Linked DNA regions of Homo sapiens: all the other regions are linked to region 3. Evidence: fine-mapped expression QTL. A gene starts in region 3. Each other region holds a variant in brackets. All regions are shown on one strand. Distances are from middle to middle.

Evidence for each region. PIP is the estimated chance that this variant, and not a neighbour inherited with it, causes the effect. A credible set is the group of variants that fine-mapping cannot tell apart.
Region 1: its variant is the best candidate, but not a certain one, in a credible set for the expression of GPR68 in regulatory T cells (Schmiedel 2018, PIP 0.70).
Region 2: its variant is the best candidate, but not a certain one, in a credible set for the expression of GPR68 in lung (GTEx, PIP 0.76).

The regions. Positions count from the first base shown.
Region 1 is chr14:91,269,303-91,274,980 of GRCh38, forward strand. CCDC88C (coiled-coil domain containing 88C) reads right to left here. Exons shown (of 30, transcript NM_001080414.4): 30 at 2,021-4,351. The coding sequence ends at 3,323. It also overlaps a transcript of GPR68 not described here. Among named protein-coding and RNA genes, the nearest start is that of GPR68, 27 kb to the left of the region's middle. RefSeq lists a cis regulatory region at 128-406. The variant T/G (reference allele first, on the strand shown) is at 3,050.
Region 2 is chr14:91,260,760-91,267,779 of GRCh38, forward strand. It overlaps a transcript of GPR68 not described here. Among named protein-coding and RNA genes, the nearest start is that of GPR68, 20 kb to the left of the region's middle. RefSeq lists cis regulatory regions at 3,623-4,258, 6,764-7,020 and a silencer at 3,813-3,872. The variant A/AC (reference allele first, on the strand shown) is at 3,956.
Region 3 is chr14:91,241,047-91,248,180 of GRCh38, forward strand. It overlaps GPR68 (G protein-coupled receptor 68), which reads right to left and starts at 3,658. Exons shown (of 2, transcript NM_001177676.2): 1 at 3,251-3,658. RefSeq lists enhancers at 2,186-2,295, 3,355-3,856, 3,376-3,425.

The DNA.
Region 1 (5,678 bases), 28 kb after region 3:
AAGTTGCCTCTGGATTAGCGACCTTGACAGGAGCTCTCCCGCAGGACCAGTGGGACCAAAAGCCGGCTGGAGTGGATGGAAGAGTAGGGGGAGAGCCTGAGGCAGCGGGACCAGTCGGCGGGAGGGTGTGAACTAGGGCAGAGACAGCTGGCAGAGGGGAGCGGCCCAGATTCCCACCCCACCCTCAGGTCCAGGATGTGACGTGTGATATGTGGGATGTGAGGAAAGGAGGGGTCCAGCTCGAATCTCAGGCTCCTGAGGCTGCAGAGATGGTCCTGGGAACAGGGGAGCTGGGTTGATGAGGGCAGCAGTCCTGGCCTGAAGGTCAGGAGACGCTGGGCTGGAGGTCACCTCCACAAGCGCTCCCTTTGTAGGGAGGGTGGGGTCAGGCCTGCAGGGGGAATGCACGACAGGAGAGTGGTGGAGGCAGAATCCAGGGCTCTGCCCGCAGCCCTGATGTCCCCGGGAGGGATGAATGAAGGGACGAAGGAGCAGGCAGCACAGAGCTGTCCCAGAGGGACAAAGAAGCGTGCAGCAGAGGCTAAGGGTGCCAAGAAGTGCCTGGCCAGCTGTCAAGTATTGCAAAGGCCACACAGGATGAAGACTGCGGGTGGCCACCGCTCAGTCTGGCTCAAAACAGCATGGATGGCAGTTTCTGTGGAGTGGCCAGATACAAGGACAGATTGCAGAGCCTCGGGGAGAACGGGCAAGGAGGTGAGAGGAGAGAGCCAAAAAATAGGCTTGGTGAGAAGGAAGGAGACACTGAGGCAGCAGCTGGACAGAAAAACATCAGAAGAACCTTGGTCAGGCATGGCCATTTTCATGCCTCCTCCTTCCCTCTCTTCCTCCTCTCCACCATGCATCCGATTTCAGTATCTTCGGCCCCTAAGGTCCAAATTCCAGATCCAGCATTTACTGGTTGAGTAGCCTTGGGAAAATCATAAGGAGCCCCTTCAGGCTGAGCTCCTGTCACGACATGAGATGAACGCCATAGCAAAATGGGGTTCTTCAATTATTTTTGAGATGGGGTCTTGCTGTGTCGCCCAGGCTGGAGTGCAGAGGCACAAGTCCTGGTTCACTGAAGCCTCGACTGCTGGGGCTCAAGTGATCCTCCCGCCTCAGCCTCCATAGTGGCTGGGACTACAGGTGCAAACCACCATACCCCGCTATTTTATTTTTTGTTTGAGACAGGGCCTCACTCTGTCTCCCAGGCTAGAGTGCAGTGGCACCATCACTGCTCACTGCAGCCTCAACATCCCTGGGCTTAAGGGATCCTCTGTCTTCAGCCTCCCGAGTAGCTGGGACTGCAGGTATACACCACCACGCCTGGCTAATTTTTCTATCTTTTGTAGACAATGTCTTGCTATGTTGCCCAGACTGGTCTCCAGCCCATTGCATGCCCCCTGTGGTGGTGGTGACCCATTAGAAAAACAAATAAAATAGGATTCAATTGATGCCAACTTAAACACACCTGAGGAGGGGTGGAAAGCTGTCACCGTACAGGAAATCTTTGTCCTTCACATCTGTCTCTGGTTGCACGTGTAACAGCTTCCCCCACCTAGTGGCAAGGAAAGTGGTGGATTCCAACTGTGGAGGAAGGGTCGCCGGCATGCAGAGGGAGGGGTGCAGGGGGAGGGGTGCAGAGGGAGGGGCACAGAGGGAGGGGTGGAGGGGCGCAGAGGGAGGGGCGCAGAGGGAGGGGTGGAGGGGCGCAGAGGGAGGGGCACAGAGGGAGCGGTGCAGAGGGAGGGGTGCAGAGGGAGGGGCGCAGAGGGGGGGTGGAGGGGCGCAGGGGGGTGGAGGGGCGCAGGGGGGTGGAGGGGCGCAGGGGTAGGGGTGCAGAGGGAGGGGCACAGGGAGGGGCGCAGAGGGAGGGGTGGAGGGGCGCAGAGGGAGGGGTGCAGGGGCACAGAGGAAGGGGAGCAGAGGGAGGGGTGCATAAGGAGGGGCGCAGGGAGCCCCAAGTCCCCAGGGGCCCACCCGATGCTAACAATGTGCAGTGAGGAAAGCCAGAACGCACTTCGGTTCCATTCCATTTTATTACAGTCCTGTCCTTGAGTTCCAGAATGAATGGCTATTTAATACACAACCCCAAACACTCCTAAAATGGATCTTGTTAACATTCAAAAGTCTCCCATTTCTTTCTCAGTATATTAAATCAAAAGGAAAAAAAAATCTTAAAAAAAAAAAATCAATAGGTTTAGTTCACCCCAGGAAAAGCACCTTTACAACAGGAAACTAAATTGTCAGGAATCTGACCAAAGACACAAAGCAGCAGATAAGATTCCCGACAGAAGAGAGTGACTCCCACTGGAACATAAATAGATCCCCCCAAAGTATACATATTTCACATGAGTGTGTACATATACATGTCATATATTAAAAAAAATTGGTTTCTATACCCAAAAAGTTATTCAGAAATAAATCAACACCCCGAGACCGGGGATGTCGGGTGCCGCAGCCAGGTTACACATCGAGCTTGCACCTCGCTCTGTGCGGATGACCCCTCGGTGCACTGTGCACACTGGCCTGGAGGGGGCTGGATGGGGGCCTCTTTCCTGCCCCCCAATCCCCAGGCCTGGCAGATCCAGTGTTTGCAGAAAAGTGAGCCAGGGAAATCTAGGAAGGCAGGTGCCTGTGTGGTCCCCAAACCCCCTGGTGCAGAGCTCAGGAGCCAGCTGGAGGCTGGGGGCAAATGGCCAAGGCCACCGCCAGCTGCCCTGCAGGCTGCCCTGGGTCCTGGGGTAAAGGGAAGTGCTTGGGACCCCAGGAATGGAACAGCAGCACTCTCACTTTTTAACAGCAGGCCTGACTCTGGGGTCTGCCAGGCCCTGGAGACCTTTGTAGTATCGCCAGTCTGGGCTTCTCCTGGGATCCAGTGGCCTTGGGAGAGGGAGTGGGCTTTCTGACCCGCCAGGCCTGAGCCTCGTAAGCCTGTTGTGTGAGTGTGTGTGTGCTTAACGGAGCTCAACACATTGCAAATGAGTGTTCTACTGGGACATACTGGAGTAGTGTCTGCTTTGGGGGAAGTCAGTTTGTCATTGCATCC[T/G]AATTGGTCCCCATGCTGACGTGGATTATTTGTTCCAAAGATATCAGCTGCTGGAAGCGGCAGACACAGAAAACACGTTACACACCTGGAAGCGTAATCCTCTTGGGGCTTGGCACAGTGTTTCCATTCACAGAACAAACAGCAGAAATGCGTGGGAACCCCTTTCCTCATTCCAAACCCTCTCCTGGCACCGCAGGCAAGCAAGAGAAAAGGCCGTGAGAGTCGGAAGGCGCGTCAGTAGTTTTCAGGTTTGCGAGCTCAACCACGAGACAGTCACACACAGCCGTACTCATACCACACGGTCTGCGGATCCCCGCCGGGCTCCGGGGAGGCCGGACTGCTCTTTGAGACGCTCCCTCGACTGCAGTCCTCCAGGGCCCGGCCGAGGTGGGGAGCCAAATCGGGAGACCGACCTGGGCTCTTGGCCGGAAGCCCCTCACTGCAGCCCTGCCCCGGGACCCCGTCTCCCTCTGAGAGGCTGAGCCCTGCCCGGACAGGGGTGATGGTGGCCACCTCCCCTGAGCGTGGGGGCGCCTTGGGCTTGGTCCTGGCAGCCGGGGCTGCAGCAGGTGAGAAGTGCAGGAGCTGGGAGTTGCTGCCACTGCCAGCAGCAGCAGCACCAGCACCTGCAGTGGCAATGGCGGGGGCTGTGGCAGACTGATGCAGGGGGGCCAGCCTCTCCTCCTTTGGGGGAGCCAGGGAGAAGCGCCTCGTGTCCAGCGGCCGGCTGCGGGGACCTGGGCCCTGACAGGAGCTGCCAGCCTTTCCCACAAGTGGGGTCCGCTCCCGGGCCAGGCTATGGGAGCTGGGGGGTGCGGGGCTTTGCAGGGTGTGGCTGCCTGTCTCTCTGCCCCCTAAGGCCTCAGGAGCCCCCAGCTTCTGAGGGGACTCCTGTTTGCAGGCCTCTGGCCCGCTGGCCCGGAGAAGGTCAGCTGAGGCCAGGCTGAAGGCCCGGCTCAAGGAGGCACTGCGGCTGGCAGGTGCATGGGAAGCTGGGGGCACCGGAGCCTGCCGGGGTCTGCCCAGAGACAGGCTCTGGGGAGGCTGGGCCTGTCTCGGGGCCACGCTGGGTGGGGCCTCGGCCTCAGTCAGTCTGAAGTTTGGCTTTACGTACTGCCCGGGCTTCAGCGGCCTCCCCTCCGAGGTGGGGGCGGCCATTTTGACGGTGGGGGCCACAAAGTTGGTGGGCATCTTGGCCCCTTCTTTCTTGGCAGGTGGTCCTGGTTGGCCTCCGATGGCTGGGGGATCGCTGGCCTTTCGGAAGTAGTCACTCAGCAGGTCATCCCGGCAACTGGGAGTGTCCTACGGAGAAGAGAGTGAAGGTTGGAGGTGGGCATGAGGGTTGGGTGGGTCCTTGGAGCCGCCTCCTGCGCGGGACGCCCCCGAGCAGCCCACGTGGCTGGGACCGCAGTTCCTGCCTGCCTTCTCCGAGGCACATGTGCCGCCTCCACCACACACACCAGCCCTGGGCAGGATGGTGAGGGTGGCTAAGGCAGCATGGGACCACCAGGAAAGAACCCCAGATTCCCCCCAGGCAACCCCCTAACTTTACAGATAAGGAAACAGACCCAGAGAGGGAAATGACTTCCTACAAAGTGAGTAAGTTTCCCAGAAACCTCGACTATAGCCGACTGCTTCGGTCTGTCTGGTTTCCACCAAGCACAGCAGGAACTAGAATGCTGGCGGATATGAGCAGGGCCTTCCTTCCCCGGTCACCCCGGGACATCATAAGGACTTCACCTTGCGCCACCGAGAGCAAGAGGAACAAGAGCAGCTCTTGAAACGCCGGAACCTTCACTGCCACTCAGACCTCTCTCTGGGCCCGAGAAAGAGAAGAGAGAGGCAGAATGGGGATGGGAGGGGGTGGGGGACAGAGAGGTACAAATGGGGTCCGCGAGGGTCCAGAAGGGGGAATGGTGGGGCTGCACAGGGAAATGAAGACACCAGGAAGGCCCAGCCGCCACACTGTCCCTGCTAAGCTGCCGCCCGGGCTGTGCTTCCCCTGCCCAGGGAGCAGGTGTCATTTGCCACCACCTTGGGAATAGGCAGAGCCACAGAGGCAAGGGTCTATGGCCCCACTCAGGAACTGCAGCCTTCTGCAAGCCTAGCTTCTCCTGAGGCTGACATGGATGAAGAGGAAGAGAAGTGAGTTCATGGGGGATGAGAGGCCGGCAGGTGTCAGCCTGAAGGCGGGTTGGTAGCTCAGGAGCCATCTGCACCTGCCAGCAACTCCTGTCCCACACAAACATCTGGACATGGTGCCACTGGACAGAGATACATCTGCTGTTTTATGCTAGTTTGACGCTACACATCTTGGGTGGGCGTCCAGTAAGACCCGTGATATCACAGGTACCTTTCATCACCTGTGGGGCCATGTGCTGTTCTGGGAACCACATGTATAATTGCAAAGAAACTCATTTAATTCTCAAAATGACCTCGCAAGGTTGTTGAAAGGCTGTATCAAGGTAAAGAAACAGGTCACGGAGGTTTGGCAGGCCATGCGTCCAGAGAGGCAGACCCAGATGAAAGCCTATGGCTGCCTGACTCCAGAGCTGCTTTCCACTCCACCAGGCTCCTCCCTGCACACCTCAGAGCCTTTGATACCCACCCTTCCTGGCCACGCAGGGAG
Region 2 (7,020 bases), 20 kb after region 3:
ACTCTGTCTGTTAAAAAAAAAAAAAAAAAAAGATGACTGGATTCTAATCCCTGGTACCTGTGAACATGTTACCTTACACATTAAATGGACTTTGCAAATGTGATAGAGATTTTGAGATGGGGAGATGATCCTGGGTTATCAAAGTGGACCCAGTGTCATCACAAGGGTGGAAACAGGAGGCAGAAGAGAAACTTTGAGTGATGTAGAGAGGGAAGGGCTCCGCCATCCACTGTCAGCTTTAAAGATGGGAGGGGCCGCAAGCCAAGAAATGCAGGCAGGCCTGAGACGCTGAAAAAGGCAAGGAAATGGAGTCTCCCCTGGACCTCCACAAAGGACCTGGCTGGCCCTGCCAACACCTTAGTTTTAGCCCCGTGAGACTCTATTCTGTCCTCTAGAATTCTAAAATAATGAATGTGTGTTGTTTTAAGATACTAAGTTAGTTGGTGGTAATTTGTTCCATAGCAACAGGAAACTAACACAGCTGTTGAGACCCAACACAGCTCTGTACTTGGAGGCTGGACCATGTGGAGTCACTCCTCAGTGTTTCCTGAGCACCTGTGGTTTAAGTGTCACCCACAGCCCCTGCCCTCTGGAGGTGTGGGGAACACACCAGACCATGGAACTGAATGTGCCCTGGGTATGCGTATTGCCAGCGATGGAATATTCTGGGGCAAGAGGGCTTAGGGTGGATCCGTTGGTTTAAAAAGGCCTCTGGAGAAGCCGGACCCCTGGCAGGGCCTTGAAGGATGGAGGGTTTGGATAAGGACAGGGAGGAGGGCAGGGAGAAGGAAAGAAAGGCATAATTGGAAGTCAGGGAGGCTCACTCAGTTATTCATTCATTATTCGTTCATCAGCTCATTTAACACCTGTGCTCTAGGCTGTGGGGCCAGGGTGGAGCCGGTGCCAGGACAGTGAGGTGAACAAGATAGACCTAGTGGTTGTTCTTTTTTTTTTTTTTTTTTTGGGGATAGAGTTTTGCTCTTGTTGCCCAGGCTGGAGTGCAATGGCATGATCTTGGCTCACCGCAACCTCTGCCTCCCAGGTTCAATCAATTCTCCTGCCTCAGCCTCCCAAGTAGCTGGATTACAGGCATGTGCCACCACGCCCAGCTAATTTTGTATTTTTAGTAGGGACGGGGTTTCACCATGTTGGTCAGGCTGGTCTTGAACTCCTGACCTCAGGTGATCCGCCCGCCTCAGCCTCCCAAAGTGCTGGGATTACAGGCGTGAGCCACCGCAACTGGCTCTAGTGGTTGTTCTTATGAAATTTATACTCAGGAGTGGAAGACAATATGCCATTGCAATGAAACATGGCAAGCGTTACAGCAGGAGAGGTTTAGCTTGTGAAGGGGCACATCAGGGTGGACTTCCTGGAAGAAGTAGCCCTTTAGTTGATAACAAGATTAACTGAAGGTTTGTTTTATATCACTCCAGGCACTGCTGGGCTCTCTGCACTCAGCAGGTGCTGACTGAAGGAGTCAGTGATTATTTTTGTTATTCCCGTCAGAGCCGTTTTTTTTTTTTTTTTTTGAGATGGAGTTTTGCTCTGTCACCCAGGCTGGAGTGCAGTGACGCAATCTCTGCTCACTACAACCTCTGCCTCCTGGGTTCAAGCAATTCTCCTGCCTCATCTCTAGAGTAGCTGGGATTACAGACGTGCACCACCATGCCCGGCTAACTTTTGTATTTTCAGTAGAGACGGGGGTTTCACCGTGTTTGGCCAGGCTGGTCTCGAACTCCTGACCTCAAGTGATCCACTCCCAAAGCTGGGATTACAGGCGTGAGCCACCACACCCGGTCCCAATCCTTTCTTAATCTGTCTTATTACACTAAGGAGAAAGCCTCACATGGGTGCTTTAACACCACTCTCATTCTTGCTCATCTCCTTTTTTAGCCTAGAGAGCAGGCCTCAGGTATGTTCACAGGTGCTAAAGTTTAATAACACTTCTGCCTAGTCCCTCACTTTTATTTGTTTAATTACCTTCTTTTTGTGGCAAGGGGTACTGATTTTCTATTTCTGGAAGTAGATTGTAATTTCTTTTTAAAAAATAATATATTTGTGTAATAGAACCAAGAGTGGGATTTTCCCCCTTGCCTTGGAATTGACCACTGGGTCTAGGTCCTCTTTAGTGGTGGGGCCTGACTCCACTCCCTAATCAGGACTTCCACCAACAGCAGCCCCCTCCACCTTGCAATCTCCACCCCCCAACACACACTGTCAGTACGGGGCAGCGGGGAGGGGCGGGGCGGGGAGTAGAACTGGGGTTAGAGGGAGAGCATTTGGAGGCTGAGAGTCTTCGAGAGCTGGAAGTGGAGCTACTTTCTTTAGAAGGTGGGTTACTATCTGCTCTCTCTCCTCAGTCAGGAGCCCCAGGGGTCAATCAGAGGTAACAGAATTTGTACCACAGGGGCCTGGAAATGATGAACTCTGCCCAGGAAATTGAGGAGCACAGACGGAATCTGAAAATAGTGATGGTAAGACATAAGTTTCGAGTTTCCATTTTTTGAGTGGAGGTCCTGCGGTAATCCAGCTCCCAAGGTAAAATATTCAAATAAAAACATGATGTATATACTAGACATGGAACTTGAGGGGGCTGAGATTTTTTGAAACTGGTTAGAAGGGAAAACCAGGATGAATACAGCAAGAACAACATTCTGATAACAGCTATGATTGGAGGATAATGGGCAGGGAGGAGCCACGCCTCAGGAGCCAAAGTAAAAAGCACCTGGTCTGGAGGGCGGGAAGTCAGGGAAGCCTTCCTGGAAGAGGTGATTCTGAACTGAAACCCAAAAGTGACTAAGAGGTATCCTAGGACTTCTCTCAGTGACTGGTGTGTGTGATGCTGTGGATACAGAAGGGGCCCTTGAATGTTGATGGTGGGGGCTCACTGGCCCAGGAGTGTATTGCTGGGGGCCACTTAGTTTGATTTTGATCATCTTGGGCAAGAAGGAGAAGCAGTGCAGACCTCCCATCGGTAACTCTGAATTATAGTCTGTCTCCCATGTAGCGTGCGGTCGCTCTGAATTACAGTCTGTCTCCCATGTAAAGTGTGAATTACATGGGCAGTGACCAGCTCCCTCCAGCTCAGGCCAAAGCCCAGCAGAGTGCCCGTTTTGCTGAATAAATGAATGAGGGAAGATGGAAGGATAAAACGAGGCAGTTAAATAATGTGTGAGAAGTACCTGGCACCAGGCGGGCATTCAGTAAATATTAGTGTGCCCCTCCCTCCTCCTTTCGCCTCTCTCCTCTCTCTGGGCCCGGGTGGAATAGCATTTCCCCAGCTTTAAGAGTTGCCACGGAGCCCAGACCTCCCGCCTGGGCCCGGGTCCTTGGACTCCTCCCGTAGTGTTCCTCTCGGTGCCTCAGCTGCAGCTGACCTGTGAAAGGTCATGTCCTCATTGGGTCTGGACAGTGCTGGACTTTTGAGATCTGCCCCCACTCCAGGAACCCTGGGCAAGGGAGCCCCTCTGGCCTGCCGTCCCCCTAGACGCCACTCCATGACACCCTCAGGGTGGGAAGTCCCTGGGCCCCAAGAGCCCCATCCATTTGTATCCTATCCTAGCACAGAGACCTACCCCAGTCCTTCTCCTGCTCCACTTCCCCCGAAGGCCTTTATTCCACAGATTGGATTTGAATTTTCCGCCCCGGTAGCTGGCGGGGAGCCGGCCTCGCTGAAGGTCAGCCGTTCCCGGGTGCGTCCCCGCGCTGGCGCCGCCGTCAACCCTCGCCCCGGCCGCCCGGCGCACTCACCTCTGTCGGGTCCCGGGTGCAGGAAGCGCGGCCGCGGTTCGGCTGGGCCCGCGGGAGGGAGTGGCCGCGGGGACGGCGCCTGCGGGGCGTGGCGGGACCGGCGCGGAGCTCGCCGTGCGGGGTCCTCGGGCGGGAGGCGGAGGCTCCGCCGCCCACCCCGCCACGGGGACAGAGTCCAGGCCCCGCCGGACACCAGGGCACCTGC[A/AC]CCCCCACCGGCCTGGGGAGGGTGCGGCTGCCAGGACAGCTCCTAGGGCACCTCCCTCCCCCCGGGGCTCGAGGGGCCCAGGTTTCCCTCCCTGCGGCCGGGCTGGCTGGATCCCTGCCCCTATCTATTTGTGGTCTCTTTGTGGGAAGGGAGATGGGGAGCAGGTAGCTGGTTCTGCCTCTGCTCTCAGATGTGACACGATGAACCCAACTTCGTGGGGCTGGGCCAAAAGGCCGGAGCTTGGAGAGGGGACATTTCTGCGCTTGACTTCGGGCTATGGACTCTGCCCGGTGGAGACCATTGTACCCCATACGGATGGAGAGGTGACGGGCTTGCCCCCGGGCCTGGGGTCTGTCATTCCCCTGGCGGACTCTTTCTGCTGTCTCTGGAGAAGGGCAAGGAGGGAGGGTGGAAGGTGAGAGAGAAGCCGGGACAGAGTTTCCCAGCCTCCAGACAAGCCCGAGTGGCCATTCTCTGTGCCTTGTGCGGGAAAACCACGTCTCTCAAACCTAGGCTCTTCCAGGGCTGAGTTTGGGGCCAGCTGAGTCTGAGGCGGCTGGGTTGTTCTGCTCTGAGCCTGCTACTGGGCCTGCCTCAGCAGACCTTTGGAATCGGATCCCTGTGGCCATCCTGCACACCTGGTACCCCTCTCCCTGAGGCCTTTCATGGGGCTGGGAGGGCAGAAATGAGAGGGAAATGGCCTAGGAGACAGCCAGCGGCTGGCATAGCTGCGTACACCTTAGGACGGTCAGCTCCGCAAAGCCCCTAGCTTCTCTTCTCTTCTCGTTCCTTCTTCACCTTTGGTTATTTCTGCTCAATCATTCAGACTCTTCCCCTGCAGCCCATCCCTAAGAGGTGGTGCTCCCTGTGCCAAGCCGACCTGTGCTGGCTTGTGAAAGCACATCTGTGAATTTCCAGGAATTTTGCAAGCCAGTTGTTCAGCACAGCCATTATTAACAATTAACTTATGTAAACCTACCATCGAGTAACTTACATGAAAAGCAAAGGTAACACTCAAGACTCCCCACTTCCTAATTATTTTACTTTTGCCCATGCTTTCAGGTTACACCTATTGTATCTGTATGGTGGTGATATTATACCATGAGGTGCATCTCTTTCTGGTGAAGGAAATCCCAAAATATTTCACCCCAAAATATGGCTCCCTGGTATAGTGAGTATTTTGAATTCAACACCCTTAGAGATCAATAAACTGGAAGAAACTTTCCCCCTTCTACAAAAAGAAAGGACTGAATCACCAAGGAGAACAGTTGTTCTTGTTCGCCCGTTATCTCATTACCCTTCACAGCAAAGAAGACCCAGAATGTAACCACATCTGAACAGACTCTTTCAAGACAGTGACTGTTGCCAAGGATCATATAAATTCCAAAGAATTTTACAAGTTACTTTCTGTTCCCCATCCAATCGTTCTCCCTAGTAATCATTTATAATCCCTCAATAGAATTCTTCTCCCTCTCCCATAAGCCCCCATTCTGTCTGTAACCTCGAGGTAGTATATAAGTTTCTGGACTTCACTGGAGGGGGTCTAGTCTTTATTCTGAAGGCTGTCATGTATACCTGTTAAGAATGATAGAGAAGATGTCTTGGGTGAATATTATGATATATAAATTATATCTCGATTTTTAAAAAATTGAGGCCAGGCACAGTGGCTCACAACTGTACAGTCTCGGCACTTTGGGAGGCCGGGGCGGGTGGATCATGAGGTCAGGAGTTCAAGACCAGCCTGGCCAAGATGGTGAAACCCCGTCTCTACTAAAAACAGAAAAATTAGCCCGGCGTAGTGGCGGGCGCCTGTAATCCCAGCTATTCAGGAGGCTGAGGCAGAGAATTGCTTGAACCCAGGAGGCGGAGGTTGCAATGAGCCGAGATCGTGCCACTGTACTCCCGCCTGGGCGACGAGTGAGACTCCATCTCAAAAAAATAAATAATAAAAACTGAGATTTTTTAATCTCAAAGATTGAGATCAGTTCCGTGTTAAGTGATGTGTTCAGTGCTGGCAGCTTGATGTTGGCCATGGTGAGAGTACTTATAGCACAGAAATTGGTAAATGTTATAAACTTGGGCTTGATTTATATATTTTTTCATTGTCTAGTGTCTCTAGACTTAAAAAAAATAGAGAAGATGCCTTGGGTCAATATTATGGTATGTAAATTATATCTCAATTTTTAAAAAAGTGTGTTGCATCTGTAGCCATTATAATAGGAATAGTACAAAAAATTGAGGAAATATTTGTTCAGCATTCAGAAACTACCACTTGATTAAACAAAGTTACTCATGTTTTCAGTGAAGTTCTGACATACATCTTTGACTTGTTTCCCTTTCATCTTACATGTTAACGTGAAAGAAATTATCAACCACATTTGTGTTGAAGCTATGCTCATTTGTCAGTTGCAAGCCTAGGTTGGCTACAAATACACCAGCAAAAAAATCAATGAGCTTTCTGCAAGAATCAATTGGTTGTATGGATTTTACAATAATTGTTATTGTATGTTTTATTATTTATAAATTGTTACTGATGATAAAGAGTCAAACTCTGGCCAGGTGTGGTGGCTGACACCTGCAATCCTGACACTTTGGGAGGCCAAGGTCGAGGGATCACTTGAGGTCAGGAGTTTGAGACCAGCCTGGGCAATGTAGCAAGACCCCGTCTCTACAAAAAATAAAAAATTAGCCAGGTGTGGTGGCATGTGCCTGTAGTCCCAGCTACTCAGGAGGCTGAGGCAGGAGGATCACTTGAGGTTGCAGTGAGCCATAGTCATACTACTGTACTCCAGCCTGAGGGACAGCGTAAGACCCTGTCTCAGAAGGAAAAAAAAGCATATCCAGCTGCAACTTGGGTATTTCCCAGCCACCAGGTCACACACCACACCAACGCAGAGGGTGGGGCCCTGGAACTCAGGAGGGGGCGTGATCCAGGGTGCTCTCTTAGCCACAGGATCCCATGGTACTGCTGAAGGGGGCTGTGGCTTGGGATTGGCTGTGGAGGTGAGCAGGGTCTTAGCGTTGAAAGCAGCTGATGGAGTAACAGGACCACGGGGGAGAGTGAG
Region 3 (7,134 bases):
AGAAATGGCTGCCAGTCTCAAGGAACCTCCAAGCTCGAAAGACAGGAATGTCCCATGCACAAATCACTATCATGCAAGGCAGTGTATGGTGGGTGCAGTGGGCCTCTCTGCCACACACATTAAACACTGGTTTGCCCTTTTTATTCCCTGTGCACTCCCTGTGGGATGGCTGCTTCTCCGTGGTTTCAACCCCATCTACACTCTGATGACTCCCAGGTCTTTCCCAGGATGAAGGCATAACCAGCTTCCTGCCACTCACAGGACACGCTCAGTGAGGCCCACGCTGGGTCCATCATTTTCTCCACTGCCCTGTTCTTGGAAGGGGCCTCCTCACCTGCCCAATCATTCATGTCAATGGCTGGCCTTCAGCTTTCACCCACATCTTCATCCACAGCGTCCAGTTAATTTCCAAGTTCTACCATTTTCAACTCTAAGTATTTCCTACATCCATCTCCTCCTCTTCAGCTCTCTTGCCAGCACCCTAGATGGGCTTGGTCAAGAGCTCCTTCCCAGAGTCAGTGCAACAGCCTCCTCCTGGGCTGCTTCCTGTCTCCATCTTACTATCCTCAAAGCCATCCTCTAAACAGAAATCTAACCCAGTCACACCCTGCTGCAAATGCTTCCATGGTTCTCCAATCATCCACCCATCCATCCATCTGTTCATCCATCCATTCAAACATCCATCATCCATTCATCCATCCGTCCACCCAAGTATTCATTCATACAGCAAATACTCACCGAGTGTCTATTATATGGAAGGCACAACACTAGACACTGGCCCCTAGTAACAAGTGGTTTTTAGTCCTAAGGCGGAGGAGAGAAGATAAGTGAAACAAGCTCACAAAGAGAGCGCAGGGTTTTGTGAGGATTCACGGGTGGGGGCCTCACCCTGTCAGGAAAGGCCTTCCTGAGCATCGGCAGTTACAGTAAGATCAGAAGAAAGAGGAAGTGCTGCCGAAGCAGAGGAGAGTTTCTACCTGTGGAAAATGTGTGGAAACAGACGAAATGCAAGAGGAAGAGAAGGGGCAGCTCTGCGGAACTGAAAGTAGGTTGGTGTGACTGGATCTAAATAAGAGGTAGGCAGGGCGAGAGAGGAAACAGTGTGAAGCTGTAGAACTGGCAAGTAATTACAAGGGAGGTGGGGAACAACCAGGGGCAAATTGGAGATTTTTCTTGGTGCCTGGTCCTTATAGCCTCCCCAGAATTATTTGTTGGATGGATGGTGGAGAGGTGGGAGGGTGAATGAGTAAATGGAGGGATAGGGGTAGCCAGATAGATGGATGACTGGATGGCTGGATAGATGGATATATGGGCAGCTGGAGAGGTGAGTGGATAGATGGGTGGGTGGATGGATAAGTGGATGGGTGAATGTGTAAATGGATGCATGGGTGAGGGGTAGAGGGATAGAGGGATGAGTGAATGGGTGGACAGACGGACGTATGGGTGGGTGGATAGGTGAGCTGATGGAAGGGTGGGTGGGTGGGTGGGTGGGTGGCTAAGTGGATGGGTGAATGTGTAAATGGATGCACAGGTGAGGGGAAGATGGATAGATGGATGAGGGAATGGGTGGCAGATGGATTATGGGTGGGTGGATAGGTGAGTAGGTGAGTAGGTGAGTGAGTGGATAGGTAAGTGGTGGGGGGTTGAGGCTGGGTGCTGGGACAGTGAGGATATCATTAATAGAAACAGGAAAGTGAGGAGGAGGAATCACCGTGGTCCCCTCTCTGCTCAGCCTGCCTGAGCTGGTCTGAGGGTCCTGATTTTTCACCAGTGCCTTCCCTTCTACTGTTCCCTGAGGACAGGCACCCCCAGATGGAAACTCTGACTTGCCCTCTACCTCATCTCCACAGGAACCTTCCTCCTCAAAAATCAAAGAACACAGTGGATGCGAAAATATTCCATAAATGGAAAAACGTAGATGTAGAGAAGAACTAAGCCACATCTGTCGAGGGCCCTGCACTTGCCAGGCAAGTTTCTGAATGTCTGTTCTCTCTTTCAACACCACTCTCATCAGCTCCCACTTTACAGATAAAGAAACTGAGGCTCAGAGAGATGAACCAACCTGCTGAAGTCTCTGCAGTTGAGATGCGGCAGGCCAGGTCTGGAACTCGGACTGGTCCATACTTTCCTTCATGCTGTGCTGACTATCATGATCATCCCAGAACCACCACCCTCAAGCCCCCAGCTCAGCCAAGCTCCAGTCCTCACAGATGCTGCAGCAATGGCCACCAGGCTTGGTCCTGGCCTGGCCCCTTCACCTGGACTATGCTTTAGCAGGTCAACCATGTTTTCAACGCCCACTGAGGAAAACCAGCCACGTGGCCAGTCCGTAGTTTGGGAAGGCATTGGAGAAAAGAATCAAAATAACACTTTATTACCCAGCTAAAAAATTGAGAAAAACTATAGAGTGACTCAACGCCTGAAAGCAAATCTTTAGCAAATGCAAATCAGCATAGAGGTCTCTGAGGACTTTAATGACCAAGAGAAATTAAGCTCCCAACAGGAAGGAAAGGCCTCTCTGACTAAGCTAGGAGTCTCTTGCATGTCCCAAGTCAGAAGGCGGAGGTGCCTAAATGCTGGATTCCAGCTGGCACATAAATAGTGATCTAACTCGCCCCCCCTTTCGTGCAGCACACACCGGCACGCACACAGACAGTTACTCATGGTGCCAGGGCTGCTCACGGAACCCCAAACCCACAAGAGCTGGGGAGTTTCCCCAGGGCCCAGCTTCCTTTTCCTTCAGTTGGCCAAACCTCTGCATGCTTTAAGCAAGGCTGTTTCATTTTCTGAAAGTGCTTTATTTTTCCCTCTGAGGAGAGGGGAAACATCAGGATGCATTTTTCCTTAGTCCCCATTTTCCCCCCAGATCGCCTCACTCCAGCAACAACGTGGACCATAGCATCTCACTTCTAGAACCCTTGTCACTGTTTCAAAGGTCAGTCCCATCTGGGCCCACGAAGTCCCTGTGAGTCAGGTGGGCTGGCATTGCTAAGCCATTTCTCAGAACCTGAAGCCCAGAGAGGCTAATGCAGGGAGGCTCAAACTCACACAGTCAGTTGGGGTGGATCTGAATCCAGAACCCACGTGTCTAGGCACCAACTTGCTGCCTTTGAGCTTTTTGGATCACAAGCAATAGCAAGAAATACACCTGACATCGCGACCCAGAACACAGACACACACACACACACACACACACACACACACACACACATCTGTACAAAGCAACAAACTTCCCCAAAGCAATACTTACCCTACTTCTTGCCACGCACTCTGATCATTTCTATTCTATTTCAATTTTTTAAATGCAGGTCATGAGCTATGAAGTTGATTTACTGACCCATGAATGGGTCACAACCCGCAGTTTGGAAACAGCTGGATGGACCCCCACCTGTGCTTTCCAGCTTCTCCTAGAGCCTCAGGGCCCCAGGAAGGCAGTGTGGTCTCTGCAACCAGGTGAGGAGCAGGCAGCTGCTGAAATCAGGATGGAGGGAGTCCTCTGAGGGGGGACTCTGAAACGAGTCCTCTCTGACTCTGCCTGCCCCAGCTAGGCTCTGCCTTCAAACCTCAAACAGCTGGGCTTCCTGCAGAGGCTCTGCAGGAGCCTGGGCACCCTTGCAGCCACGATCCCAGCTCTCCCTCCAGCGACTTCCCGCAGCCTGAACCTCCCAGCTCCGGCTAGAAAATCCCCAGCTGGAGGCTGCCCATTCCCGAGCTGAGGCAGAATCATGTGAACTCCAATCTGGTGTCAGGCTGGGCGGTTGCCGAGGAACCACTCGCCAGCCAGAGGCTGAGGGCGGCGGAATGGCTCTCTCCACGCATCTTCCTCTGCTCTCCATGCAACCCAGAGTCAGTGAGCAGCCTCGCTGGGAATGTGAAAGCCTGAGCTAGGGGCAGGTGCCCTCAGGACTGTGGTGGGGGGATACAGGAGGAGGGGGTGGGCTAATTCTAGCCACCTTTCAGCACCTACAGGATACCGGGATCCAGGCAAGGGTGGGGGAAGCCGCCAACATCTGGGTCACTGGGGCTCAACCCTGGCCATGTGCATGAGAACATACCTGGGAGCCTACAAAAAAAATACCAATGCCCGGGCCCCACCCGGGGCTGGTTAAATCATGTTTCCTGGAAGTGACGTGCCAGCATCAGTGGCTCTAAAGCTCCCTGGACTGTTCTAAAGTGCAGTGAAGGTGGGCAGCCACGGATGTGGTGAAGCAGGTAGGATCCTGTTTGGCAGAGCAGCAGAGCGAAGGCAGTGGAGCTAAGGCTCTGGGCATCAGTAAGGATAGGGCGGGCATCAATGTTTTCAACTGTGTCGGTCCCCAGAGAAGGAATCAAGCCCAGGGCTCTGGCCCCGGGGGCCCTTCTGGCTCTCAGGAGCACTTACTAAACTCCCTCCCTCACACACATAACACGGAGGATGGAAAGGCCCAGCATTTTGGCGTAACCACCTCCCTCCAAGGCAGACTCCTTGGAAGCTGATTATAAGCTACGTTGCCAGAGCCAGGAAGCCAACAGATACGGTGCATGGGGCCACTGGGGGTGCGAGTCCTTCCTGCTGGAAGTGGCCAGAGCCCTGTGCTTGGTCCCTGCTCTGGGGACCAACACAGTTTAAAACACTGATGCCCATCTTATTCATGCCAAGAGCCTTGGCTCCACTGCCCTCACTCTGTTGGTAGGGGGTCTAAGGAAATCCCCTTCAGTGGGGCCTGGGCCCTCCAAGCAAATGCTACCACATAGCAGGCCTTTTAAAAACTATTTCCGGCCAGGTGCGGTGGCTCACGCCTGGAATCCTAGCACTTTGGGAAGCCGAGGCGGGTGGATCACCTGAGGTCAGGAGTTGGAGACCGGCCTGGTCAACATGGTGAAACCCCATCTCTATTAAAAATACAAAAATTTGCTGGGGGTGGTGGCGCATGCCTGTAATCCTAGCTACTCGGGAAGCTGAGGCAGGAGAATCACTTGAACCTGGGAGGCAGAGGTTGCGGTGAGCTGAGATCATGCCATTGCACTCCAGACTGGGCGACAAAAGCGAAACTCCGTCTCAAAAAAAAAAAAGTTTCCTACGTCAGTTGCTTCTTGCAGGCCTTATGTTACGAGCAAAGGCTTCAGCTTGTTGTGGTGCAGTAGCGTGCATTTAGACACACGTGCTACTTCTGAGTTGCGGAAGTGTGGCTGGCTTTCCCTGATGTCATATAGGAGGACGCGGGGTTAGGAGCACAGAACTGACTTAGCAGTGACTGCCTGGCTTACCCCTAGGACACAACCTGCCAGAGAGAGCACCTCTGGCCCTCTACGGGGTGGCCTGTCCTAACAGGGTGTGCACACACCGGCCGTCTACACCATCATCGTCTATACCTGCAGGAACCACTAATGGCATGGTGTCCCCTCCCGCCTCCAGCCCTGCCAGGGGCTGGCAAGCTGCCCCAGCCCCTCTGCTGGCAGCATGTGCCCTACTGCACCTGGAGTAAGGACCATGCCTTTGGGATGAAGGAGGGGTGAAACTTTCTTTGGTTTTACTCAAATTGGCTGAGCCCAGGTCTTTGTGAAATGCTAGCTCAGTAAGAGAAAAAAGAGCCCATGCTCTCTCATGTGCTTGGCCCTCAAGGAGTTAGAAAATAGCCTGGAGTGGCTCAGTGCCAAGAGCTCCCTTTACCATTTCCTGAGCATTTGCTTTGCACCAGGTGCTGTGCCCATCCTTTGTTTAATCCTTATATCAACTCTGTGTGGCAGGGATTATCCTGTTGCCCAGGCTGGAGTGCAGTGGTACCACCTCCACTCACTGCAACCTCCACCTCCTGGGTTCAAGCAATTTTCCTGCCTCAGCCTCCCAAGGAGCTAGGATTACAGGCATGCGCCACCACACCAGGCTAACTTTTTTTTTTTTTTTTTTTTTTTGAGATTCGCTCTTGTTGCCCAGTCTGGAGTGCAATGGCGTGATCTCGGCTCACGGCAACTTCCACCTGCCAGGTTCAAGCTATTCTCCTGCCTCAGCCTCCTGAGTAGCTGGGATTACAGGCATGTGTCACTATGCCTGGCTAATTTTGTATTTTTAGTAGAGATGGGATTTCTCCATGTTGGTCAGGCTGGTCTTGAACTCTCGACCTCAGGTGATCCGCCCACCTCGGCTTCCCAAAGTGCTGGGATTACAGGCGTGAGCCACCACACCTGGCCCTAATTTTTGTATTTTTAGTAGCGATGGGGTTTTGCCATGTTGGCCAGGCTGGTCTCAAACTACTGGCCTCAAGTGATCCACCTGTCTTGGCTTCCCAGAGTACTCAGATTACAGGCGTGAGCCACCGTGGCTGGCTGAAACAACATCGATTTCTTATCTTGCAGTTTTGGAGGTCAAAAGCATGACATCGATCTTACTGGCTAAAATCAAAACTGCAGTCTGCAGGGCCGCATTCTTTCTTGAGGCTCTAAAATCCATTTCCTTGTCTTTCCAGCTTCTAGAGACTTCTAGCATACTTTGGCTTGTGGCATCTTCCATCTTCAAAGCCTACAGCAGTCAACTGAGTCCTTCTCACATCACATCTCCTCTTCTGACTCTCATGTTCCCTCTTCCACTTCAAAGGGTCCTTGCTTGTGACAATGCTGGATCACTCCTTACTTTAAGGTCAGCTGATTAGGAGTCTTAATTCCACCTGCTGCCTTAATCTCCCTTTGCCACGTAAGGTAACGCAGTGGCAGGTTCTGGGGATTAAGAACTGGGCCTCTTTAGAGAGGGCATTATTCTGCCTCCCACACCCACCTTGTGATACTTACTTAAAACCCTGTATAGTGCTGGCTGGGTGAGGTGACTCATGCCTATAATCCCAGTACTTTCGGAGGCTGAGACGGGTGGATTGCTTGACTCAGGGTTTGAGACCAATCTGGGCAACATGGTGAAACCCCGTCTCTACAAAAAATACAAAAAATTGGTGGGTGCAGTGGCATGTGCCTGTAGTCCCAGCTACTCAGGGGGCTGAGGCTGGGGAATTGCTTGAGCCCAGAAGGTGGAGGTTGCAGTGAGCCGAGATCACACTTGGGCGACTAGAGTGAAACCATGTGTCAAGCAAAACAAAACAAAACAAAAACCCTGTACAGCGCTGCTTCTCGAATGTTAGTGTGCATGTATTATACATCTCCCAGGAATCT